Homo sapiens: one gene and its partners. The protein of the gene in region 6 purifies or fractionates together with the protein of the main gene of each other region. This does not show direct contact. Each region holds a gene or a part of one and is shown on either strand. Other genes may lie near its edges. The genes, in order: HIP1R, TNPO3, ORC5, INTS2, XPO4, SCN2B and FAM118B.

The links.
Region 1: the proteins of SCN2B (region 6) and HIP1R purify together in Homo sapiens (affinity purification with mass spectrometry; 4 studies listed by BioGRID and IntAct, with this or other methods). This does not show direct contact.
Region 2: the proteins of SCN2B (region 6) and TNPO3 purify together in Homo sapiens (affinity purification with mass spectrometry; 4 studies listed by BioGRID and IntAct, with this or other methods). This does not show direct contact.
Region 3: the proteins of SCN2B (region 6) and ORC5 purify together in Homo sapiens (affinity purification with mass spectrometry; 4 studies listed by BioGRID and IntAct, with this or other methods). This does not show direct contact.
Region 4: the proteins of SCN2B (region 6) and INTS2 purify together in Homo sapiens (affinity purification with mass spectrometry; 4 studies listed by BioGRID and IntAct, with this or other methods). This does not show direct contact.
Region 5: the proteins of SCN2B (region 6) and XPO4 purify together in Homo sapiens (affinity purification with mass spectrometry; 4 studies listed by BioGRID and IntAct, with this or other methods). This does not show direct contact.
Region 7: the proteins of SCN2B (region 6) and FAM118B purify together in Homo sapiens (affinity purification with mass spectrometry; 4 studies listed by BioGRID and IntAct, with this or other methods). This does not show direct contact.

What each region holds. Positions count from the first base shown.
Region 1 is NC_000012.12:122,848,957-122,852,456, reverse strand, and holds part of HIP1R (huntingtin-interacting protein 1-related protein), read right to left. Parts: intron 2,583-3,500; coding exon 2,502-2,582; intron 1,623-2,501; coding exon 1,546-1,622; intron 1,222-1,545; coding exon 1,160-1,221; intron 1-1,159. UniProt on the Homo sapiens protein: Component of clathrin-coated pits and vesicles, that may link the endocytic machinery to the actin cytoskeleton. Binds 3-phosphoinositides (via ENTH domain).
Region 2 is NC_000007.14:128,968,112-128,971,611, forward strand, and holds part of TNPO3 (transportin-3), read right to left. Parts: intron 2,205-3,500; coding exon 2,037-2,204; intron 1-2,036. UniProt on the Homo sapiens protein: Importin, which transports target proteins into the nucleus. Specifically mediates the nuclear import of splicing factor serine/arginine (SR) proteins, such as RBM4, SFRS1 and SFRS2, by recognizing phosphorylated SR domains.
Region 3 is NC_000007.14:104,205,214-104,209,202, forward strand, and holds the start of ORC5 (origin recognition complex subunit 5), read right to left. Parts: upstream 2,801-3,989; 5' UTR 2,692-2,800; coding exon 2,620-2,691; intron 1-2,619. UniProt on the Homo sapiens protein: Component of the origin recognition complex (ORC) that binds origins of replication. DNA-binding is ATP-dependent. The specific DNA sequences that define origins of replication have not been identified yet.
Region 4 is NC_000017.11:61,893,483-61,896,982, forward strand, and holds part of INTS2 (integrator complex subunit 2), read right to left. Parts: intron 1,902-3,500; coding exon 1,833-1,901; intron 418-1,832; coding exon 283-417; intron 1-282. UniProt on the Homo sapiens protein: Component of the integrator complex, a multiprotein complex that terminates RNA polymerase II (Pol II) transcription in the promoter-proximal region of genes.
Region 5 is NC_000013.11:20,896,247-20,899,746, forward strand, and holds part of XPO4 (exportin-4), read right to left. Parts: intron 1-3,500. UniProt on the Homo sapiens protein: Mediates the nuclear export of proteins (cargos), such as EIF5A, SMAD3 and isoform M2 of PKM (PKM2). In the nucleus binds cooperatively to its cargo and to the GTPase Ran in its active GTP-bound form.
Region 6 is NC_000011.10:118,173,840-118,177,968, forward strand, and holds the start of SCN2B (sodium channel regulatory subunit beta-2 precursor), read right to left. Parts: upstream 2,801-4,129; 5' UTR 2,593-2,800; coding exon 2,523-2,592; intron 1-2,522. UniProt on the Homo sapiens protein: Regulatory subunit of multiple voltage-gated sodium (Nav) channels directly mediating the depolarization of excitable membranes.
Region 7 is NC_000011.10:126,256,782-126,260,124, reverse strand, and holds part of FAM118B (protein FAM118B), read right to left. Parts: coding exon 3,273-3,343; coding exon of another isoform or gene 3,255-3,272; intron 1-3,254. UniProt on the Homo sapiens protein: May play a role in Cajal bodies formation.

The DNA of each region.
Region 1 (3,500 bases), on a different chromosome or scaffold from region 6:
GGTAACTGGCTCCTACCTGGTGGGCTCTGTGCTGAGAGGCTCAGGCTCAGCACATCTCTGCCAGGACACAGAGCCTGGTAGCCCTGTCCTGCTGCACAGTTGGGGCCACACCTTTGGACACCTGCCCTCTGCTCTCCATGTCAGATCCTGAGCAGGCTCTTCCCAGGCACAAGGGTCCAACTCTGAGCCCACCTCCCACCCACTGGAACTGAATACCCATCAGGCTCGCCCAGCTGCACTGGCCAGACCTGGGGACTCAGGGAGGCTGCCCAAACTGCCTCTAACTCCCAATTTTCCCTTAAGGAGGCATTTGCTTCTTGCCCTCTTATGGAGAGCACTGAGTCACCCATGAGTTGTTTTGAAGCTGCCACCCAGAACAATCAGTTCTCCAGCCTGGAAGCTGAGCCCTCTGAGATTTCCTGTCCAACAGCGGCCGGGTTCCCTCGCTAGGAAGTCTGACGTGACTCAGAGGCTTTCTAGAGCAGAAAATGGCAGGACGACCCAAACCTTTCTTCCAGCTGGGCTCTGCAGATGGCCCAAGGCTGGGGCAGGAACCTGGCAAGGTGGCTCCTGTGCACACCTCCTCACCCTCCCTGTCTTGGGGCTGATGGAGTGACACTCACTGGATGGAAGAGATGGCTGAACCTGTATCCTGGATGTACCCGCTGGGGCCTGCCATGCTTTGGAGGGGCCAGGAGGCCCCATTACCTATCCCTGGAGGTGCAGGGACCCCAGGAGGGGCAGGGGCATTTCTTTTTCTTTTTTTTTTTTTTAAGACGGAGACTCACTCTGTTGCCCAGGCTGGAGTGTAGCGGCATGATCTCCGCCGCCCAGGTTCAAGTGATTCTCCTGCCTCAGCCTCCCAAGTAGCTGGGAATACAGGCGTGCGCCACCACGCCTGGCTAATTTTTATATTTTTTTAGTAGAGACAGGGTTTCACCATGTTGGCCAGGCTGGTCTTGAACCCCTGACCTCAAGCAATCTGCCTGCCTCGGCCTCCCAAAATGCTGGGATTACAGATGTGAGCCACTGCGGCTGGCCAGGGTCATTTCATAGTGATCAGTTGGTCTGATCACTCATGTCTTCTTTTTTCTTCTCGTCCCATCTCTGGGGACTTAGCAATACACTCAGACCCCCGCATCCCCTCTTTACGGCTCACCTGATTCAGAAAGCTTCAGCTCACAATCCATGTAATCAAACATCTCCACAGTGAGCTGGAAGCTACGCAAGAGAAGTGGGGGAAGAAATGAAAAAGGGTGGGTGGACCCACCCACTCGTCCTGAGACGCCCCCTCCAGTGGGGACGGGGGCACCGCCGACACCATGGCTCTGGTGAGACAGCGTGCCTCTGCCAGGACGACAGTCCTTCAAGTACACCCCACCCTTTTAACTTCACCCTCTGTCCCTGGGAGCGTGAGCATCAACCAACAAAGCCACGGACTCATTCAACCCCACTGCCCCATGCGGACGCCTGGGCGTGAGACGCGGTAGGAAGGAATGGGGAAGCCGAGGGGAACTGGCTATGTAGCCATGCAGAGTGACTCACATGTTGTTGACATCGGTCCCAGCTGCCTTCTCCAGTACCTCATCTGTCACCTCCAGGCCCGCGGGAAACTGGGGATGCTGTGGAGAGAACCCCCACCCAGCGGCCACTGAACCAGGGCCCCCCCACACCTGGCGGCCACCGAACCAGGGCTCCCCCCCACCCAGCGGCCACTGAACCAGGGCCCCCCACACCCAGCGGCCACCGAACCAGGGCCCCCCAACCCAGCGGCCACCGAACCAGGGGGCCCCCCCACCCAGCGGCCACCGAACCAGGGCCCCCCCCACCCAGTGGCCACCGAACCAGGGCCCCCCCCACCCAGCGGCCACCGAACCAGGGCCCCCCCACCCAGCAGCCACCGAACCAGGGGGCCCCCCCACCCAGCGGCCACCGAACCAGGGCCCCCCCCACCCAGCGGCCACCGAACCAGGGCCCCCCCCACCCAGCGGCCACCGAACCAGGGCCCCCCCACCCAGCAGCCACCGAACCAGGGGGCCCCCCAACCCAGCGGCCACCGAACCAGGGCCCCCCCCACCCAGCGGCCACTGAACCAGGGCCCCCCCAACCCAGCGGCCACTGAACCAGGGGGCCCCACGCTGGACCCTGCTCTTGGCAGACCCAGGCTGTGGCCCACATAGGTGGCAGAGGGCAGTGGAGGGGTTGGGAGGAGGGGAGCACCCGGCCAGCACAGCAGAGACTGAGGAAGCCCAGCGCTCATGTCCACAGAAACGCCTGGGGAAGCCCGTGCCCACGTCCACGGAAATGCCTGAAGTGTTCTAGGAGCTTCGTGATGCCCTGGCTTCCCCGTCTCCCCTTTAGTCATAGTTGGGACAAGAAGGTGAATGGAAAGACTCATGGAGAGGACAGATCCCACCCTCGATGTCCCAACATGTGCCATAACGTCACAGTGGGAAAAGCCCACGGGTCCCTCAGCCCCATGACTCCCCCGAGGAAACCACCTTGAGGTGGAAGGAGATCTTGGTCAGCAGCAGCTTGGTGTAGACATTCACCAGCTGTCCGTAGCGGTCATGCAAATGTCCCTGTGTGAAGACAGACAGGGTGAGGGGCCACGGCTCGTGAACACGTCCAAGAGTCCTCAAGGACCTGGGCACGAGAGTGACCCACCACCGGGCACTTCTTCATTCAACAAACGTCTTCTCCTGGCCTCCACCAACCACCCTCTCTGTCTCTAGCTTTTTCCCTTAATCTTCCTCCTTGTCATTCCTGCCAAAGAAACTCTTGTGAGAAGAGAGCTCTTTGTCCAGGGCGGCAGGCCAGTTCTGAGCAGGGACGCTTTATTAAAGTGCTGGTGCTGGCAGGGAGGCACGTCCCGACGGGCGCCTGGACACATCCTCCCTGCTCCCTCCTCCAGCCCCACGGCCCCTGCGGCCGGGCCAGCTGGGCCTGCATCTGCAGGTGGCACCATGGGCAGTGTTTTCCTCGCTTCAAGGGAAGTGAGTCCGGGCAGTGGTTCTGGGTTGGATAACGCCCTGGTCAGGCCTCCCTGTGGGTACCCGGTCCAGGGCCTGCCCTGCTCCTATGTCCCTGCCCAGGCAGACGAGCACCCCACAGTGCTCCAGAGAGAACCAGGCCAAGGCCCTCTGCCCACCAGGGACATCTCTAACTCCTGAGGTCTTGCAGTGCATCCAGATTGCAGGCCCCCCAGGGCTCTCAGGCCTTACTGTGTGTGTGCTCAAAATGCAGACCTCCAGTCCTGATTCTTCAGCAGCAGGTCTGGGGGAGCCCAGGAACCTGCGCCCTGCCACAGGCTCTCTAACCACCGAGGTGCCCGGGCTGTGGTCTTGCCACATTTCCCAACTCGTGAGGACTAAAGGGCCCGGGTGACTTCGACGCTGGAGGGCCCACTGGTTATGCGTGTGGAGCGCCCTGGGCCAGGCCCTCAAAGGCAGGCAGCATCTCCCCGTGCTGCCCCTCCCACTGTCGCCCCTGGGAAAACC
Region 2 (3,500 bases), on a different chromosome or scaffold from region 6:
TTCAGATACCTGAAAGAGCAGGGGCAAAAAGTATACTAAGCCACCATGTCAGAAAGTATACATATGAGACATATGAGTCCAGAATCTTAAGGATTTTAAGGCCATCTCTCTCAGAATAAGTCCTATCCATTCAGTTCCTTTGTGATATCTGCCTGTTCTTTGTGTTAAAAAACCTTGCTCTTGTTGCTGTTTAATTTACTTATATATTTTTTATATAAGTATATCTAAGAATTCTCTTTATGCCTTTTCTATGCACAAAAATTGTCTACTCCCTTTACTTCCTTCCTTTCTAAAATAAAAATTCTACAGACTTCCTCTGGGTTCTTATTTTCAGTTTAATTGTTGTCCTTTGGGTCAGCACTAATATTTCTTCATCCCTTTCTTAAGTGGAATGTATACTTCAGTCATAGTTTTGGGCTGTAAAATTACTCTTTTATACCTAATTTTTTTTACATTATATATTTTCCCATCATATTCATTTATGGCCATAATAGGCCAGAGCAAAAGTATTATAAATGCTCATGAAGTACTAAGCATTTCTTAATTATGGATACATAACAGCTCCTTAATTCTTAAAAATACATAATAGTTGTTATATAGCAAACTTTTTCTTTTTTGAGACAGGGTCTTGCTATGCAGCTCAGACTGGAGTGCAGTGGCATGATCATAGCTCACTGCAGGCTGGAACTCCTGGGCTTAAGCAATCCTCCTACCTCACCCTCCTGAGTAGCTGGGACTATAGATGTATGCCACCACACCCAGCTAATTAAAAAGAAAAAAAATTTTTTTTTTTTTTGTAGGGATGGGGTCTATGTTGCCCAGGCTGGTAGTCTCAAGCTCCTGGCGTCAAGTGATCCTCCTGCCTTGGTCTCCCAAAGTATTGGGAAGACAGGCATGAGCCATTGTGTCTGGCTGATATACAGTACACTCCTTAGAGTACATGGCTACCTGGTTTCTATTCCTGTCCAAACTTCTTGTTCTCATTTTTTGTTGTTGTTGTTCGCACTTAACAATATGCTTACAATCAAGAATGTTTTCATAAAGTTAGATTTACATAAGTTTTCTGTTACTTGGGAACCAAATGTATTTGTAAAAAAGTTTAAGCAGAGTATGAAGACTTTTTCCCTCAGGTCAAGGACTTTTGAATTAAATTTGCTGATTCCTGGAGGCTCAAAAAGTACTTTTCTTTAGAAAAACAAATATGCTACTCTATCAGGTTGAAATGGAACATGTGTATTGAACCAGAGAGGAATAGGTACTATCTGTTATATATTATTATTATCAATTTTATATTCTGTGGTTCTGTAAGACAGCTCACTTTAACTAGGTCCCAATGAGTACTTTCCTGAACTGCTTTTACAGTAATATTAAAAATTATAAATTCCATTTTAAAAATGATTTCAGGTTATATTATACTTTACCATTCTACTCAACTTTCACACAGTACACATAACCTGAGTTATGGTCATGTGGCCCAGTACTGAAATTACTTGGGCATTATTAGATAGCTTTAAAAAAACAACTCCATCCTTAGGTGGGTGATAAAGGATCTGGTTCAAAGAAATCCAAAGGGGAAATATATCCAACTGTACATTGTGGGTTACTTTGACAATTATGTGCTTCCAAATGTTCTGGCTAGATGTATCACCAAGAAATAATACAGTGCTATAGAATAAGTCTGAAAGGATTAAATACTTCTTGAGTAATACGTAACTAATATAACTGACATTTGGGCATCTCTCACAAGTGAACAAATTTCACATTGGACAGCCACACAACTGAATTCAATGCTTGATACTTACTTCTGGTAATATACCCCCTATGACAGTGACATAGAAACATGCTTTAAAGAACTCAATAATAAATTACTGATCTTTACGGGCCTCTTCATCTACCAATCTAATTTGGCAATATGCCTAAATTTGGTTCCATGGACAGAAAACAGGGCTAGTTTCAAAATTAGGGTTGGCCTTAAGGAACCAAAGCCTATTACATTTAGGGACTATGAGATAAATTCCTCATGAAAACAATCTTACCGGTCTGTCAACCTGCATGATCTCCCAGAGCACTTCAGCCACATCTGGTAGGGTATAGGGGGGGAGGCAAAAGCAGCAGGTGTGCAGCAGCTGGCTGACAAGCTGCTGTCCAAGCTGGTTCATCACCTGTCCAATCAGTTCTTTCCGTAATTCAAAGTCTTCTTCATGCTGTATGTAGGAAAGCAGGAACATCAGATAAATTCTAGTCTCAACTTCCCAAAGACCAAGCACTCTTTCCCCTTTAGTAATTTCTCTTTAATAGGAAAGTGTGTGTGTGTGTGCACGCGTGGCTGTGTGTGTGTGTATGCAGGTGTGTGTAAAATGACAGCTGGATTCACAAAGTCCAGAAGTTTTTTGTCTTTAGAAAGAAAATGAAGGAGTTTATTAGTATCCAAGGAATGAACATGGGTTTCAACAGAGATTAATGCTTAGATTTTTCATGATTTGAAGGCAGAAAACATGGTTAAGAATTAAAGTTAGCAATTTTTAAAATTTTTTTCTCTTCATCTTCTATGTGATGGTATTAATTTTTTTTTAATGTGAAAAATAACTTGTGTTCCTATTTCCTTTTTTAAAAACTAAGTCAGCCTGGCATGGCAGCACACACCATAGTCCCAGCCACTCCAAAGGCGCAGGTAGGGGAACAGCTTGAACCCAGTGTTCTGGGCTAGAGCATGCTATACCAATTGGGTGCCTGTACTAAGTTCAGCATCAATGTGGTGACCTCCCAGGAGTGAGGAACCACTCCTGGGTTGCCTAAGGAGGGAGGGGTGAACAGCCCAAGTCAGAAACAGAGTGGGTCAAAATTCCATTCTGATCTGTAGTGGGATCTCGCCTGTGAATGGCCACTACAGTCTGTCTGGGTAACACAGCCGGAACCCCAAGTCACAACAAAACAAAACAAAACAAAACCAACTGAAATTAGAATTGAAGACGTCTATCAGAGATCTAATTTTTTCTATCGAAAAAAAAAAAACCCTTTTTTTCTTCTTGCGGTCTTTAATTTTTTTTTTTCTGAGACAGCGTCTTGCTCTGTCACCCAGGCTGGAGTGCAGTGGCCTGATCTTAGCTAACTGAAACCTCCATCCCCTGGGTTCAAGCAATTCTCCTGCCTCAGCCTCCCTAGAAACTGGGATTACAGGCATACACTACCACACTTGGCTAATTTTTGTATTTTTAGTAGAGACAGGGTTTCACCATGTTGGCCAGGCTGGTCTTGAACTCCTGACCTCAAGTGATCTGCACGCCTTGGCCTCCCAAAGTGCTGGGATTACAGGCGTGAGCCACTGCGCCTGGCCCTTCTTGTGGTCTTTAAATACACATGTATTTCTAATACCTTGAGAAAAATATTTTTTAAATTGCCTTTCCCTTCTAGTTATTTTCTTCTCTCTTTTACTGCCAAACTTCTTAAATGAATAGCCTAAATAGAATGCAGAATACTTACTTCTTCACTGCTCTCCCCTG
Region 3 (3,989 bases), on a different chromosome or scaffold from region 6:
TGAGTAGCTGGGATTACAGGTGTGTGCCACCACACCCAGCTAATTTTTGTATTTTTAGTTAAGACGGAGTTTCACCATGTTGGTCAGGCTGGTCTCAAACTCCTGACCTTGTGATCTGCCTGCCTCAGCCTCCCAAAGTGCTGGGATTACAGGTGTGAGCCACTGTGCCTGGCCTATTTTTTAATAATACATTTTTTTAAATAATTACAAGAAAATGGGATTATGCAATTTCTATCAGAAAGTTAAGTCTCTATTAATTATCATCGATTACAGCAACAGTCACAAACATTTATTACATTCAAGTCACTAAGTTAAACATTTCCTTTTACAAGACAAATCAGGAACTCAGATTTACGCAGGAAAAAGACTTTCTAAATGGCATACAGCTATGGCAAAAGCAGCTCAACTGCTAAAAATAGACTAAAAATTTACTTGAAATGAATAGGTAATGTAATACATGAATCTTTTTCTGAAGTTTATATGTAACAATCATAAATTAACTGGCCCAAAAATTCTGTCTCAGCAGGATGCAGTGGCTCAAGCCTGTCATCCCAACACTTTGGGAGGCCAAGGCAGGCAGATCACTTGAGTTCAGGAGTTCGCCTGGGAAATACAGTGAAACCCCATCTCTACAAAAAACACAAAAATAGCCAGGCTTGGAGGCAAACACCTGTGGTCCCAGCTACTCGGAGGCTGAGGTGGGCGGACTGCTTGAGCCTGGGAGGCAGAGACTGCAGTGAGCCAAGATCATGCCACTGCACTCCAGCCTGGGAAAGAAAGCCAAACCCTGTCTCAAAAAACAAAAACAAAAAATTCTGTCTCAAGAATTAAATGCATGTTGCTGAGTATCTCTGCTATCCATTACATGTTGTTGCCTAATAATACCTTAAACATCTTTTCTATTGTGACCTAGAATTATATTGAACTGTTCCACTGTTATTTAACCTTTCACCTTCATAAATCTCGCTAACATAAACTGCAATAAGCTAGTACCTGACACAGAAAAGGTGCTCGGTAAATATTTATTTATTGAACAAATAAATGAGTATTCTTAGAAACATGAACCAATTTTTTATATTTCTTTGCTATAGTTGTTTGTATTTCCCACATGCACAGCACCTTGCAGAAAACTGATATTAAAATATTGTTAAACATAATTTTCATTAAAAGCAAAGGTCAAAAACTCTTCTGTGATCCACCACTAAGTTTACTCATCCCTATTTGCCAATTTGCTCTTTCAGCAGGAACATTTCTGGCTGGAGTGATCTGCGTTCCATAGATGAAATGCAGAGAACATAATCAAGAAAATGCTCCAGTAATAATATAACTATAATTGAAAGCAGTATAAATAGAAAATTAATTGAAGATGCAGTTGTTGACCTCTAACTTCCCTAAATAATGCACCCCTTTAGACAGAGGGTAGTACTTTTCCACTAATGCTTCACAGGCCACCTCAAATTGCCATGCAATATTTCTAGTTGGATGAAAGTACAGTCACGTGTACATTCAAAGATGGACCACATATACAACAGTGATCTCATAAGATTATAATACCCTATTTTCACTGTACCTTTTCTATGTTTAGACACTTTTAGATGCAGACTTATCACTGTGTTACAACTGCCTACAGTATTCAGTATAGTAGCACCGCTGTAGAGGTTTATAGCCTAGGAGGAACAGGCTACACCATACAGCCTAGGTGTATAGCAGGCTACACCATCTAGGTTTGTGTAAATACACTTTCTGATATTCACAGGGATTAAATTGCCTAACGATGCATTTCTCAGGACGTATCCCCCTCACTAAGTGGCAGCAACGCATGACTGTACTTAAAAAAGCAAACCAGAAGATGGGGGTATGAGTATGACCCTGAATTCTCATTCACTCTCTTCGCAGGTAAGATCCAAGTTTGATTAATTCCAATTCTGATTGAGTCTGAATCAAAAAGCACATCAAAGACCACCAGAAAATAGTCAAAAATAGGTTAAATTTTGAATTGGTGAACGCTACCCTCTGCCTATTGAAAGGACTCCCTACGTATCTATGTTCATCCAGACAAGACAAACTCCTCTCTAGGGCATCCTGTGAACTATCAGTTAAGGAGAAAAGTTTACCCTAGACCTCTTCTGGACTGTTACAATTCTGGAAAAGCCAGTAAATTTTTAAACCTGAAGCACTGCTTTGGCCCTTAGTGGCCTTGAAAGCAACCACCTCTCTACACTTGACTCACTCCAACTACCGCACAGAAACGTGTGAACTTACATTTGAATAAATAACACCCTGCAAACACATCTGTTACATAAATGTCATTGGGTTGGGGTAAGATAACAAGCAACTTCTAGGAGCTAATGTGGGCAAACTTCTGAAAAGTGTGGCGTGTTTCAAATACGTCTTAGGCAACGTCCTATAGTGCAGGCCGGTCGCTCTCAGACTGTCTCCTCTTCAATATTCGGAAGAGACTGTGGGTGAAGCTGCAGTACAGAACCACAACACCCCTATTTAACGTAAAAACGGCCTTTTGGCCCTCAATCCAAACACGAAAAAACAAATATTGGAACAGGTCGCAAGACTACCGAAACGTCTGCCTCCAGGATCTGGAAGACAGTTTAACTACAATACCTCTCCAAACAAGGACTGCAAGATGGACACTTGAGACTCGCGACAAAGCACCACGTTTTCCAAGTGGGGCATTCTGGCAGGCACCACCGCAGAGGCCAGTGCAGCCAGCCCACAGGACCCTTGCACAAGACGGAGCCTCTCCCGAGTCTGGCGGCCCACGCTCCCGCCGGAAACCGGACCCGCAGCGTCGTGGGAGGAGCCTGCGCTGCCGGGCTGCGGCGTGACGGCAGCGCGTACGCCGAGCGTCGCCGCCGCTCTAGTCTCAGGGCCGGAACCATCCTCTTCTCGCTGGTCCTGTGCGCGCCGAGGTTTTGCCCATTCTTGGGCTTGGTGGGGATTTCGGGCTGACGCTTTTTCCACTCAAAGGCTAAGGAGACGACATGGAGATGGGCGAATAGGGAAGGGGTGGAAGGGGTTAAGGGGGTCCCGTGGGCCTCCAATGACCCCTGAACCCCGTGCCTTTAGTTTTACCGGCTGGAAGCCCCAAGTTTAGAAACCTTGAGTGCCTAAGAAGACGGACCCGGAGCTGGGGCCCTTAGAGGGACGTGGAAGGCGGACTTAGAAGACTAATATTGTCAAAAGATGTTTTTGTTGTCGTTTTTTTCCCTGACGACGTTGTGGGAAATTAGTGGCATTGAGTACAAAACAGGGTGTAATGGGGTTTAATGCACAGCTTGGAATTACTATTTTTTGTGCAAGCTTTAAACCAGATGTGGAAAGCCTCTCAGTCCTAATGGGATGAAGTCGTAGTGTGTGTTGGTGAGGTTGATAGTAAAAATAATGCTACTTTTAGCATTAGGCTTTCACGTGTATTTATTTGTGAGGCACCTACTAGCGACTAAACACTAGAAGATTCTGGAAATAAGATACAGAAGTAGGCAAGTGCATGGTGGAAAGAGAGCTTGGCGTCCTGAAACCCCTGGGTTGGGACCACTGACTGACTCAACTGCTGAATAGGGGGACTTTGGAATAGTTGAGCCTCAACTTCCTTATCTATAAAATAGGGATAATACTGGCTAGGTTATTGCTAGGAGTAGAAGATCCTGTACATACTACCTGTTATACATAAATTTAAATTGTGGACTTCAATCTGCCCATAGATTGTAGATCAGTCTTAGATTTGTGATGGTCAAAAGGATCTTTTGAGAGTTGTGGTATATAACGTATTAGCTAGTCAAAATAGTATTTTCACAGCAACAATTCAAAAGCATTTGCCCAGGTACTTTTTAATAGAGAATTCTAAAGGTTATAATGGGACCACCCATTAAATTTCAATGTCTCCAAGGGAAGCTGGCCTCTGATACTCTCCTAAGATGGTTATACGTCCGTAACATACTGTGCATATAAGGTATACATATATTATAATCATA
Region 4 (3,500 bases), on a different chromosome or scaffold from region 6:
GTCAGGAGTTCGACACCAGCCAGCCAACACGGTGAAACCCTGTCTCTACTAAAAATACAAAAATTAGCCGGGCATGGTGGCACACACCTGTAGTCCCAGCTACCTGGGAGGTTGAGGCAGGAGAATCACTTTAACCCAGGAGGCAGAGGTTACAGTGAGCCAAGACTGCACCACTGCACTCCAACCTGGGTGACTGAGCAAGACTCCATCTCAAAAGAAAAAAAATATATATATAAAAATGTAGGGGCATGCTTTTATTTTGTTTTATTTGTAGGGGCATACTTTTATTGACACTTTGTGCTTGGTAAAGGAACGGCTCCTGAGAAGCTGGTAAATACAATGAATAGGCAAAAATCCAGTAATGTTGGCACTCAGGTTGCTGGTGACAGGGACCCGAACTGCATGAGCTGTGACAACCTAAAAGGGAAAAATAGCATTAGTAATATAATAGAACTAAATATAAAATTATTTTGAAAGAGAGATTAGTAAGTAGACTGTCAACACCTAATACAAGTGTGGTCCCTAGAAATGAATGATGAAAATAAATTATTACATGTTTTAATTGTCTTTGAATGCTGAGGAAATGTACATTTAGGGATTTATATAATTCCCTAATTTTTTGTTTATAAACATAGATACATACACAGTGGTGTGATAAGGTAAAAAAATAAAATAAAATTTTGAAGCATACAATCTGGGCTCAATGACTTTGAAGAAGTCATTTATCTTCTGAATCTTTTTCACATCTACAAAACAGGACACTGCCATACCTGCCTCAAAGCATTGTTATGGGGGGAAAATATTCTTTTTGGAAAAACATCATATGAACTATAAAGCACCACATAAATATAAACAGAAATATTTATTCTCAATATGTCATGCATAGGCTCTAATCGTCTTTTAAAGACCCTCTTCAAAGTTGTCTTCCAATTGGTTCAAATTTAAAGACAAAAAATAACTTATGATTCTCCCACATGCTGTGTGACTACTTGTAATTCAGGAGTATATGTGCATATGCGTGTTGAGGGTGGGAGGGATAGTAAAATATAGAAATAAAGATATTAATAGCCACAAAAAAGCAACAACTGGCCGGGTGCAGTGGCTCATGCCTGTAACCCCAGCACTCTGGGAGGCTGAGGTGGGTGGATCACCTGAGGTCAGGAGTTCAAGACCAGCCTGGTCAACGTGGTAAAACCCCATCTCTACTAAAAATACAAAAATTAGGCGTGGTGGTGTGCACCTCTAATCCTAGCTACTTGGGAGGCTGAGGCAGGAGAATTGCTCCAACCCAGGAGGCAGAGGTTGCAGTAAGCTATGACCATACCACTGTATACTAGCCTGGGTGACAAAGTGAGATAAAAAAAAAAAAGAAATGAAAAAAATCCTTATGCTTATCCATGGACAAAAGTGCTAAGGCTAAAGAAGAACATGTTAAGTATAAGAAATTTAGACTCTAGCCTGTAATCTAGTTAGAAATGAATTTTACAGCCTAAAGGTTTAAATAGGACTTCATTTTATCTTTCTCCAGACACATTAAAACAATTACCCCTTGAGATGCCCTACCAGCAACATCTAAGAGTATTCTCCTAAGTATCTACTCAAAGTCTCCAAAAATACATAAATTCAAAAGATGCCTTGGTATGTTATGACTAGTTTTAAAAGTGTATTTTAAATGGATTATTCTTTAAGAAAGTTTCAAAGATGAAATAAATCATCATGAGTTTAAAAAGAAAAAAGACCATATTATTTTCTTAAGGTAAGACACACAAGTTTTCTCCCAAAGAATATTGTAAAAGAAAGTTAAATAAGTACCTAAGAATAAAAAGAAATACCTGCTCAGTAAAAATTTCCTGTGTGAAGATTGTCTTCATCCTGCTCAAGGAGCTTGGCTTAATTACAATCTAAAATTACCAAAAGAATTCCAACAGCATGTAAAAATATATGAAACACAATTTATTCTAGGGAACTTATCTAAAATGGCTATGATACACATAAATGTTCAAATGTTCAAGTACTCTACTCTGTTTTAGAAGTGCTTTCCCAAACCCAACATTAAAGTGTTAATACTCAAAAACAGAACCAATATAAAAAGCACTTAATAAATACTATTATTGGCATTTTCAGTCGGTTGGGGGAAACAGATTATTTACTACATGGAGCTAGGATAGCTGCCCCTCTGTGAGGCCAAGAGAAATATGTGTGTGTGTGTATGTGTGTGTCTGTGTCTGTATATACGCACATATACACACACAAATATATGTATATATGTATATGTACAGATAGACACACATACACTTTTTGCACATATCACACCATACACCAAAAGAAACTCCAAGTAGATTAAAATGTTCAAATGTAAAACATGAAACCACCAAAAAAAACTAGAAGAAAATATAAGTGACCACTTATATAAACCCAAGAAAGGAAAACATTTCTAAGCATAAGAGCAAAATAGAAAACACAAAAAGAACATTTACAGCCAGGTGCAGTGGTTCACGCCTGTAATCCCAGCACTTTGGGAGGCCGAGGAGGGCAGATCACAAGGTCAGGAGATCGACACCATCCTGGCTAACACAGTGAAACCCCATCTCTACTAAAAATACAAAAATTAGCCGGGCGTGGCGGTATGTGCCTGTAGTCCCAGCTGCTGGGGAGGCTGAGGCAGGAGAATGGCATGAACCTGGGAGACGGAGCTTGCAGTGAGCCGAGATCGCACCACTGCACTCTAGCCTGGGCGACAGAGCAAGACTCCATCTCAAAAAAAAAAAACAAAAAAAAAACATTTAATATACTACATAAAAATAATAATGATAATAATTTCCACATGGCGAAGTTAAATGGCAAAAAATACTGGAAAAAGTCAATTATAACATATTGAACTCTCCACTTTTAAAGATACTATAAGATATGTCACTGATTTAATATTACAGTAGCTTTTCAAGAAAAAAGTAGGAGTTGGAACACTACCACTTTCATATTACATGTCAACTGTAAAATGAATCCCAATTTCAATACTGGGTAAAATATACGTCTTGAAATATATGAAGTAAGATGTATAAGGCATAATGACATATCTTTCCTTTTGAATCAGTGAAAGAAAAAAATAAATCAAAGTCCCTACAGGAAAATTAGGATACTGATCAGCTTTTCACAAAAGAAATAAACAAGCCAAAACACATAAATTTTAAATACTAAGTTTCACTAGTAATCAAAGAAATTCAAACTAAGTGATACCACTGTTCATCAACCAAATTTGCAAAGATTAAAAAAAAATAGTAATGCTCAGTCATGTTGAAAGTTTAGAAAAACAGTAGTTCTTACTAACGGTAAGAGTTAAACTGATACAATCTTTCGAAAAGATAATCTGACAGTACTCATGAAACACCTTAACATAGTCATACACTTTTCCTTAGCAATTACCTTCTAGAAATTTATCCTAAGAAAATAATCCAACAGGTGTATGAAGAGATACATGTGGGTGCCTATGTGTGTATTTACAT
Region 5 (3,500 bases), on a different chromosome or scaffold from region 6:
CAATTAATTTTTCTCCCACCTCAGAAAAGGGTGAGGAGGAAAGAGAGATTTTGATTGACATTATATTCAATTTAGAGATGAATGAGGGAGAAATTGCCACCTTAACCGGATTGACCTTTCAGACCAAGGAGCATAGCCTTCATTTAATTCAGCTCTTTTATATTCTGCAAATAAGCTGTATCATGTTCTTCACAAAAATGGTGCATGTTTCTTATCAGTGCCCTATAATTTATTTCTACAGTTTTTCTTTCTAACAGAATGGGATCTTTTTTCCAATTTTAAGCTGATCACTGCTGATATAAAGGAAATCTTGCAACCCATTTATTTTTCTTACATCTGGTCATCTTTCCAAAGAACTAATGGTTCCAACAGTCTTAGTTATTTTGCTTAAACTTTTTTTCCGAAATGTCATATCACCTGCAAATAATCATTTTTTGGCCTTTCTTTCCAATATCTGCACTTATTCCCATTTTTTGTATTACTGTATCAGTTAGACCCTCCAGAAGGTATTAAATAACAGTTATATTAGGACTCCCGTTTTACTTCTGAGGATATCATCATTTAATACATGGTTTCAGATAACTATTTGTTATCATATTGAGAATTCCCTTCAATTCCTAGTTTATCCAATTGTTTTAATCATAAAATGCTGTTAAATTTTAACAACTGCCTTTTAGGCATCTATGGATGATTTCAAATGCCTTTTTGCATTTCTTCTCTGGATCACTGGCTATGTTCCAATTAGTGTGACACAAGTCCAACTGCAAATACACATTTAATTGAACTGAATTTGAAACATAAATTTCCTATTAATTAGCTTTTTTGAGAAAAAGAATGCTGTGCCAGTTTTCTAATATCTAGTGCCACCGCAGGTACTACAAGACAGGGCTGAAATAAACAAAAATGCATACTTACTATAATGCATCTTTCAAATAAGAAAAGTAGGTTCAATTAATTAAAATTTTCATTTTTATGACGTGTACTGTGGTTACAAAAAAATAAAGGCAGTGTACCTTACACATTGAAGGTCTCAGGAAATATCTACTACATAAATGCTCAAATATTCCTCAAACTCACTGTATTTCCCCAAACTATATTCTCTCAGACTATATTCCCCAAAATATATATCTCCACCTGGGATATTGCTTATCAAACTAGAAAACTCTAATCTATTTTTCATGATTCAGCTTAAGGGTTACCTATTCCAAGAAGCCCTTTCTCAGTCCCTATCTCAGCCTGAGATAGATGTTTGTACCTACTTCTATTATAACTTTACCAACCAACATTTGCTAATATTTTTGCCTTTCTCCACTCCTTGAAAAGAAGGTGCTTCTTCTGTCTCCTCAGCATACACAGCATAGTGTCTAACATGCTGTGTTTCTATATACTGAAGAAATGTTCTAAAACAAATCAATGGCCAGAAATTGGATTCCAGATCCAAACTAGCTACATGACAACAGGCAAATCATTTGCCATCTCTGAATATCAGGTTTTCATATTTATTTATTTATTTATTCTATTTTTTTGAGACAGAGTCCCGCTCTACAGCCCAGGCTGGAGTGCAATGGCACAATCTCTGCAACCTCTGCCTCCTGGGGTCAAGTGATTCTCCTGCCTCAGCCTCCCAAGTAGCTGGGATTACGTTATAGGTATGCACCACCTCGCCCAGATAATTTTTGTATTTTTAGTAGAGTCATGGTTTCGCCATGTTGGCCAGGCTGGTCTCGAACTCCTGACCTCAGGTGATCCACCTACTTTGGCCTCCCAAAGTGCTAGGATTACAGGTGTGAGCCACCATGCCTGGCCAGGTTTTCTCATTTATAAGGTTTAGGAATATCTCATCCTATTTACTTCACAGGACTGATATGAGAATGAAGACAAAAATTTTTCTATAGGACTACAGATGTGCAAGTATTTTAGAAGATATTAACCAGATTCCACTATAATAAAATCTATGAAAACCAGTCATGAATCTCGTTTATTAAAGTTGGATTTACACTCACTAAATCCATCCTGGTTTAAAAACAAATGTATGGGCCGGGTGCGGTGGCTCACGCCTGTTAATCCCAGCACTTTGGGAGACCAAGGTGGGAGGATAACCTGAGGTCAGGAGTTCAAGACTAGCCTGGCCAACGTGTTGAAACCTCATCTCTACTAAAAATACAAAAATTACCCAGGCGTGGTGCCAGGTACCTGCAGTCTCAACTACTTGGGAGGCTGAGGCAGGACAATCACTTGAACCTGGGAGGCAGAGGTTACAGTGAGCTGAGATTGTGCCATTGCACTCCAGCCTGGGCAAGAGTAAGACTGTCTCAAAAGAAAAAGGAAAAAAAAAACCTATGAAAATTACTTTTCTATAATGTATCAGTTAATATGTGTGCTCTGCACTATCTTATATTATTGCTACACACAATCACTAAGGACAATCCAAAACAACCTAATGAAGACAGGGCAACAAAACCAAGCAAATTCAAGACAATAAATAAAGCGCTCTTTGGACTGCAAATGAATGTGGCATCAATACTATAAGAACACTAAACTTTTCAATAATGTTGTCTCTAAAATCAAAACACCTCCTACATTTTAGTATACAAGAGGATGTGCATAGGTCATACACAATTACCATACCATATCATGTAAGAAACTCACCTGGGCACAGTAGCTTACGCCTATAATTCCAGCACTTTAGGAGGCCAAGGCAAGAGTATCACTTGAGCTCAAGACCAGCCTGGGCAACACAGTGAGATCCTCTCTACAAAAAAATATTTTTAAAAAATTACCCATTCAAGGCTGCAGTGAGCCATGATCATGCCACTACACTCCAGCTGGGACAACAGAGACCCTGTCTCAAAAGAAAGGGAGGGGATCGGGGGGACTTAAGTATCAATGCACGGTTGATGTCCATGGGTGGAGGCGGTTCCTGGAACTAACCTCTCATGGACACCGAGGGACAACTGTACTACTTTATCTGGCAGCTTATCCAATAATCTAAATTGATTGAATATAGATGTACCATATTTAGACATTTTCCATCAAGTAATAAAATGTAACATTTATAGTATATGTTGACTAAGAACCAACATGGTTGAGTAAAAAAAGTAAAAAAAAAAAAAAAAGAGTAAAGGTTTTGAAAGGGGAGTCTGGTGATCTCAGCCTGGATCAGTTATATCATGAATTTGCTCTGTGACCTACCTTGGGCAAGTCACTTCTACCTCTTTGAACCTCAGTTTCCCCATCTGTAGCATAGAAGGGAGAATGCTTAGACTTGATTCTTATTTTTCAGTTTCTAGTCTCTCAGAGACGGTGATAAAAGCTCTAGACCCTATTACTAAAAATGTACATTTACACCAAAAAATTTGTTACAATTTCCTTTTGATATTCATCCTAGACTCCCTAAGACTTCTGTACCAAAAGATCTAAGATTCTTCTATGTTCTAAAATTCTATGCTGATTTCCATAAAACAACTATATGAGTTACCTAATGAAAAATTAAGCAAAAA
Region 6 (4,129 bases):
ATGTCTGGGTCCCCACCACCACAAGCAGCAGATATGTGCAGTGGGCTAGAGTGAGGACTAGACTTCACTTTCTTTCTTTCTTTCTTTCTTTCTTTTTTTAAGAGACAGGGTTTGGTTCTGCTGCCCACGCTGGAGTGCAGAGGCATGATCACGGCTCACTGCAGCCTGGAACTCTTGATACTCCTTCTTCAGCCTCCTGGAACAGTTAGGACTACAGGTACATGCCACCATGCCTGGCTTATTTTTCTTTTCTTTTTTTTTTTTTTTTTTTTTTTTTTTTTGTAGAGACAGGGTCTTGCTATGTTGTCCAGGCTGGTCTCCAATTCCTGGCCTCAAGCGATCCTCCCACCTCGGCCTCCCAAAGCACTGGGATACAGGCGTGAGCCACCATGCTCAGCCCAGACTCCACTTTCTATGCCTCCACTAACATAATCCATACATTGGTAAGCAGGCCAGTGACTGTGGAGTCAACGGTCTCAAGAAAAACTTGAGGGAAGCCCAGTCATTTGAATTGTTTCTGGCTAAAACTAGCCTCATATGCTTCTGCCGTGGGTAGAGCTGGTTGCCCACCTGCCCTTTCTCTTTGCCACCTCCATAGTCATCCCCACAAGCCCAGCCCCGACAGAGTCCCCTCCCTCGTCACTTGTGGCATCCTCCATCCTGGGGATCGATGCTACTGCAACACCACCAAAGTTCCACTGTCAACTCGGCCCTCAGCATTGGAGTGCCAGGGACATGCCTCATTACAGCACCAATCAAGTTCAAGTTCAAGGTCCCCATTCCTGCATCCTCTCCCACTCAGCTTTGCAGAAGCTTTAGCTTCCTCCCACTACCATCTCCCCACCCCAAACACTCAGACCTCTTCATCGCAGACTCCCTCTTCCTCACCCTAGCCCAGAGCTCTGGGTCCTGGTCACTGAGCCCCCTTTCTATCTTTACTTAGCCATGGCTCTCACCAGGCGGCTTCTCTCCTGCACGAAGTGCTTCCTAACTCCTGAGGAAAGGGTCCTGTCCTCCAGCTGGGCCTCCTTACAACAGGCCACTCACCCAACTCCCCTTCTTTCAGCCTGTCCTGAGACTCTGATCAATTAGGTACTGTTAATATAGCAGTGCCATTTCTTGAACATTGGGGAGTGGAATCCAACGTTTAAGAGAATGTGCTGAAGTCAGACACAGGGAGTTCAAATTTCAGCTCCCGTTACCATAGTCATCTGTTTCCTCCCTGTAACCTGAGTATAATAGAATCTACCTCCGATTGCTGTGAGGGCTAAACAAGATACACAGTGCCTGGGCTCACGAAAAGCATTCTTATGTTAGCCATCGTTGAGTTCCTGCCATGCACCAAATCACAAACACGTCAGGCAGTAGGCATTCTTTAGTTTACCCGGGAGGGAACTGAAGCTCAGAGGGGTTGAGTAACTTGCCTGTGATCATTACGTAAATGACAAAGGTGGCTTGAAACCCAGGTCCTGCCAGAGATTCCATAGCATTCCTGCTCTGATGTTAATATGCCAAGTAACTCAGCAAAGCAGGCTGGCAGGGCCTCTGCACTGTCTGTGTTTAGCACTCCTACTCCAAACCCAGCACATCACACCACAGAAAGAGAGAGAGCCTTTGTGGTGGGGAATAGTTCCATCAACAGTCCTTGGACTTGACTCTCAGTTGCTGCTCCAGCAATAAGTAAGTTTAGGAGCAAGAATGAAACTCTACAAAGCAGGCTTGCAAATAACTTTCTAGCCCACTTCCCCACCAGGAAGTCTCTGAGTGGTCAAATACAAACACTTGACAGGACAGTCTGCAAGACTGGGCTGGGCAGTTCTGAGGCTGGATTTAAAGGGCTGCAACCTCGCTCAGCCTGTGGGTTCCATTTTTTTCCTGAATCTCTACACCTGGCCCTTCCTCCATTCCATCCGGCCCAAGCCAAAGGTGCCTTCTCCATCAGTGCGTGCCTCAGCAGGTCTCCTCCCAACCCAGACATCATTCCCCAAGCCCGCTTCCCACCTACTCCCACACACGTTCCAACAGATCAGTGAGACCGAGTGCCAAGAAGCCAGACCCAGACTCAACTTTCTGCCACCAGCTCCCCTGCACACTCTCCTAATACCCTAAATCCACCAGGATCAAGCTTCTGAAAAGAAGCCCCTTAAGGGAGCATTAAGTCCCAGGACCCCGCATTTGCAGCAACTCCAAAAAATAATCCCTGAAGAGACTGCAGGTCAATCCACTCTCTGCCCCACCGCCACGTAGGTCCACTTAGGGGAAATCCAGAGAAGATTCACCTCCCTTGACAATTGTCAGCCCCCAGCAACACTCAGATCCCCTGACCCAACATTTCTGTGACTAAGTAGTCCCAGGGTTCTGCACTCCCCAGCAACGTCCCTTCCAGTCCCCAGCACCTCCCCTCCCAAGGACACAGAGGGAAAGCGCTAGCAATGTCTTCTTTCCTATCCCCTGCCCCCATCCTCTTCACATTGCGGCTACACTTCTGAACCCTCGGGAGCATGCAGATGTGTCTAACTTACCCAAAGAGAAAAAGAGACTGAGCCCCGTGAGGCTGAAGGCAGGGCGAGGTAGCCAGGCATCTCTGTGCATTTTCAGAGACTGAGATGTTAGTCGGGTGGGCTACGGGAGAGGGTGATTTGAGGGGGCGAGAACTACAAGGGAGGAATGGTTGGATGCTAAAAAAAAATGCACGGATGTACTTCAAAGACATATACAACATTAAGGAAGCTTTATTTCCATCTCTCTAATATGGCCGGCTTGTATGTTGCTGCTAAAAAGAGAGAGAGAGGGAGTGTGTAAAGGAGAGAGAGAGAGATGGGGGGGAGAGAAAAGGGGGATGGGGTAAATATTGTGGTTGGTGGATTTCAAAAAGCAGGTGGGAGGGCATAAAAAAGTCATTTTGAAAAGAACAAAATCCCAGAAATTTTTACCCTCTAAAACAAGAAATAATACAAACCCTGCTTTTTGACTTCACTGGGATGATTGTTGGATTTTGAAAGCTATTAGAGGAATCCATTTATTTTAAAGATTCTGGAAAGGGAAACACCTTTTATCATTTAAAAACACCCCCAGGCTGACGCAGTGGCTCACACCTGTAATTCCAGCACTTTGGGAGGCCGGATGGATTGCTTGAGTCCAGGAGTTCAAGACCAGCCTGGGCAACATGGCAAAACCCATCTCTACTAAAAATACAAAATTTAGCCAGGCATAATGTCGCATGCCTCTTGTCCCAGCTACTGCACCGCACTCCAGCCTGGGCCCTGCCTCCAGAGGGAAAAAAAAAAAAAAAACCTAAAAAAAAAAAGGAGATGCTTGTTTTTGTGTTATTGAAAAGGGTTCAGGAAAGTGAGTTGGAGAGACTTTCAAGGGGTAATGCTTTCCTCATTCTAGCGTTTCCTCTGAAAACAGAACATGTTGAAGCAGGCTGATAGAAAAATACCCAAGAGATCTTACAATTGAATGTAACACAGGCCTTTGGATAAACCTGATTCAAACAAATCAACAGGAAAGAAAAGTTTTTGAGACAATTGGGAAAAGTTAAATATGAACTACATAGTAGATTGTATTAATGAATCATTCTTAATTTTGTTGGGTCTGATAAAATGTGGTTTTGTCCTTTAACATCTCTATCTGTTAAAGACACACATGGGTGGCCGGGCGGGGTGGCTCACACCTGTAATCCCAGCACTTTGGGAGGCCGAGGCAGGCAGATCACCTGAGGTCAGGAGTTCGAGACCAGCCTCCCTAACATGGTGAAACCCTGTCTCTACTAAAAATACAAAAGTTAGCCGGGTGTGGTGGCGTGTGCCTGTAATCCCAGCTACTTGGGGGGACTGAGGCAGGAGAATTGCTTGAACCTGGGAGGCGGAGGTTGCAGTGAGTCGAGATCACTCCGCTACATCCCAGCCTGGGCCACAGAGTGAGACTCCATCTCAAAAATACATATATATATATTCAACGAAAAAAAGAGATGGGAGAATAGGTGACACGAGACTAGTTGTTTTGCTTGATAATTGAAACTAGCTGGTGATGGGTGTAAAGGGTTTGTCATATAGTTCTCTCTTCTTTTGTGTATGTTTAAAACTTTTCTTTTGAAGAAGGAAGAAAAAATAAGCTAACGTCATAA
Region 7 (3,343 bases), 8.1 Mb from region 6:
GGGAGGTCAAGGCTGTGGTGAGCCATGACTGTGCCATTGTACTGCAGCCTGGGTGAAAAAGCAAGACCCTGTATCAAAAATAGTAATAATAATAAAATAAAAATAAAGCTGGCACAGTGGCTCACGCCTGTAATCCCAGCACTTTGGGAGGCTGAGGTGGGTGGATCACGAGGTCAGGAGATCGAGACCATCCTGGCTAACACAGTGAAACGCTGTATCTACTAAAAATACAAAAAATTAGCCGGGTGTGGTGGCGGGCGCCTTTAGTCCCAGCTACTCGGGAGACTGAGGCAGGAGAATGGCGTGAACCCAGGAGGCAGAGCTTGCAGTGAGCTGAGATTGCGCCACTGCACTCTAGCCTGGGTGACAGAGAGAAACTCCATCTCAAATCAATAAATAGGCCCGGGCATGGTGGCTCACGCCTGTAATCCCAGCACTTTGGGAGGCCAGGGCGGGTGGATCATGAGGTCAGGAGACCGAGACCATCCTGGCCAACATGGTGAAACCCCATCTCTACTAAAAATACAAAAAATTAGCCGGGCATGGTGGTGGGCGCCTATAGTTCCAGCCACTCAGGAGGCTGAGGCAGGAGAATCACTTGAACCCAGGAGGCGGGGGTTGCAGTGAGCCGAGATTGTGCCACTGCACTCCAGCCTGGCGTCAGAGCGAGACTCCATCTCAAAAAAAAAAAAAAAAAAAGTACCACAACGACTGCTTGTATGGTAATGGATTATAAGAATTATTTTTCTTTTTCCCACTGCTTGATTTTTCCAAAATATGTGTAACTACATACTATAGAATCCTTTGAAGACAATTAATTTCCACTATGCAAAAGTGAGTATACAGCACAATGCCAGGCACATAGCAAAGGTTCAGTGTTAAAAAACAAAATAACAGCAAAAGACCTGTAACCTCTCATTAGTCTATATCTACAGAGACTCAAAACATTATGCAAGGGTGAAAGATAAGGTTGACTCGTTTCAAAATGAAATGATGTTTTAACCTGAAACTGCTCTACTACATTTCACATGACAAACTCAGCTGACCATTCCCATAAAGCACTCTGGCCATACTGAAAATCCTTGATTTTGTTTAAAGATACAGAACACCTTAATGATGGGTAACTTCGGGGAAAGCTACTCTGGTAGGAAGCCTACACAGCTAATAAAAGAATTTGTGCCATTCCACAATAGCAGTTAAGGTTCCTTAGAGCAATCTTAGTGCACTAAGGAACCTTACTGCTTCTTTGTTATGTAATGCAACAGTCTAAAGACATATTTATTTTTTGCTAAGATTTAGTGCAACAGAAACAGTTATGCAGACGGATTTTGCTGTTTTAAACTTTAGCATCTTTCCTCAGCATATAGATCAAAAGAAATATGTAGAACTTGGATATGTATGTCTTGTTAATGAAAACAACATGTGCAACAGAAAAGCCTTCTCAAAGTCTCAAGTGTGGGCAAACAACAGCAGGAGAGTCTAGAACACTGCAGGACACCAGAAAAACTCATTTCCAACAAAGAATAGTAAATAGTTTTCACAAATGAGACTTGTTCATGTGGTGATGGCTTTTAAAAGTCTGGTTCCATCAAAGCATAGCCATGGAAGAAGCTGTGTAATTTTTCATTACAGGAGAATTCTACTTGAAGCCATCTGATTCAGTTAAGAAATCTGGGGATGATTTGATTTAGGAAAACTGCTTTATGTTTATTAAATTACCTGTATGTTATTTATTTTAGAAACAGCGTCTTGCTTTATTGCTCAGACTGTAGGGCAGTGATGCAATCATAGCTCACTGCAGACTCCAACTCCTGGGCTCAAGTGATCCTCCTGCCTCAACCTCCCAAGCAGCTGGACTACAGGTGTGTGCCACCACACCTGGCTAATTTTTTGCAGAGACAGGTTCTCACTATGTTGCTCACACTCATCTTGAACTCCTGGCCTCAAGTGATCCTCCCACCTGGGCCTCCCACAGTGTTGGGATTACAGGACAAATTACCTGTACTTTTGCCCTCCTAAGATGCATTCAGGTTGACAATGAAAATACTTACATAAGTTTTCAGGAAATATTCTGTGCACAACAGCCAAGTTTTTTTGGAATTAGATGGATGAGTCACACTAGCCATACTCTGGAGCCTGGCAATGTGAGGTTTTGAAAAAGCATTCTTCAGTTTAGCTGATACCAAAAATGTTTGTGTTTTGTGCGGTTACTGGGAATTTGCCTGCAGCCACTAATCAGCTGAATCTTTAATCACCATTTTGCTCTTTATTGTTAGAATGTGGAGGTAAAATATCAAGTGTATGATACCCCTATCCTCTGACTTGAATATCACCATTATCCGTTTCCAAATAGCATTTCTAAAAGTAAGTTTTCTGTTTGTAAATATAATACATAATCATCATAGAAAATGCCAATACAGAAACCAAAAAATCAACACTTTAAATCCTACTAAAGATAGCCACTTAATTTAGTAAACATTCCAGATACATTTCTACACGCACCAAAAAAAAAAAAAAAATGTACAATTCTATATGAATATAGCTGACCATGGTATTTACAACCTGCTTTTTCTTCCTTTACTCATATGTCTCTAACTTTTTTTTTTATGGCAATGAAAACACTTTCCCTTCTATGGTTTCATTGTATTTCATCAATTAAATAAATATTGGCATATCTGTAGAATCTCCACCAATTTTAGGATCCTTCCAATTTTTTGCCACTACATTCAATGGAAATTACATTCCCACGCATGCATCTTTGTACAATTGTGTGATTGTGCAATCATCCAATTATCTCCTTATGAGAAACTTCTAGGATAAATTGTTTTGATGGGATTTCTAGGTCAAAGATTTGAAAATTTTTGTTACATCTTCTAATTTATGGTCATAAAAGTTGTACTAACTTTACCTTTCCACAAATACTCCATGAATAAATTTATTTTCTCACAGCCTTAGCCAAAATTGGGTGATCTTTCTTCGCTATTTTGTAATCTAAATTCAAACTGCATTTCATTGATAACTAGTGAGGCTGAACATCTGTTTTCTTCATTCTTCCTATGTCTATATTGAACTGCTCAAGTATTCCTTTTTGTCTGTCTTCCCATAATCCAAGTGGCACTTTAGTCTAACCTGAAGACTGTGGCCTCCTTTACAATTTGGTCAGTCATTACATTCCTCATCTTGGCAACTATTTTGCCCATCACATCACAAATACACAAAAGGCTGAAGAGCTGTTGTTCTCTGATTCCCCTCAGCTTCAAAATGCATCTTACCTGATGTACCCCTTGTGGAGATCTCACATGTCAGTCGCTTGAAATATTCTGGAAGATCGGCATAGTCATCT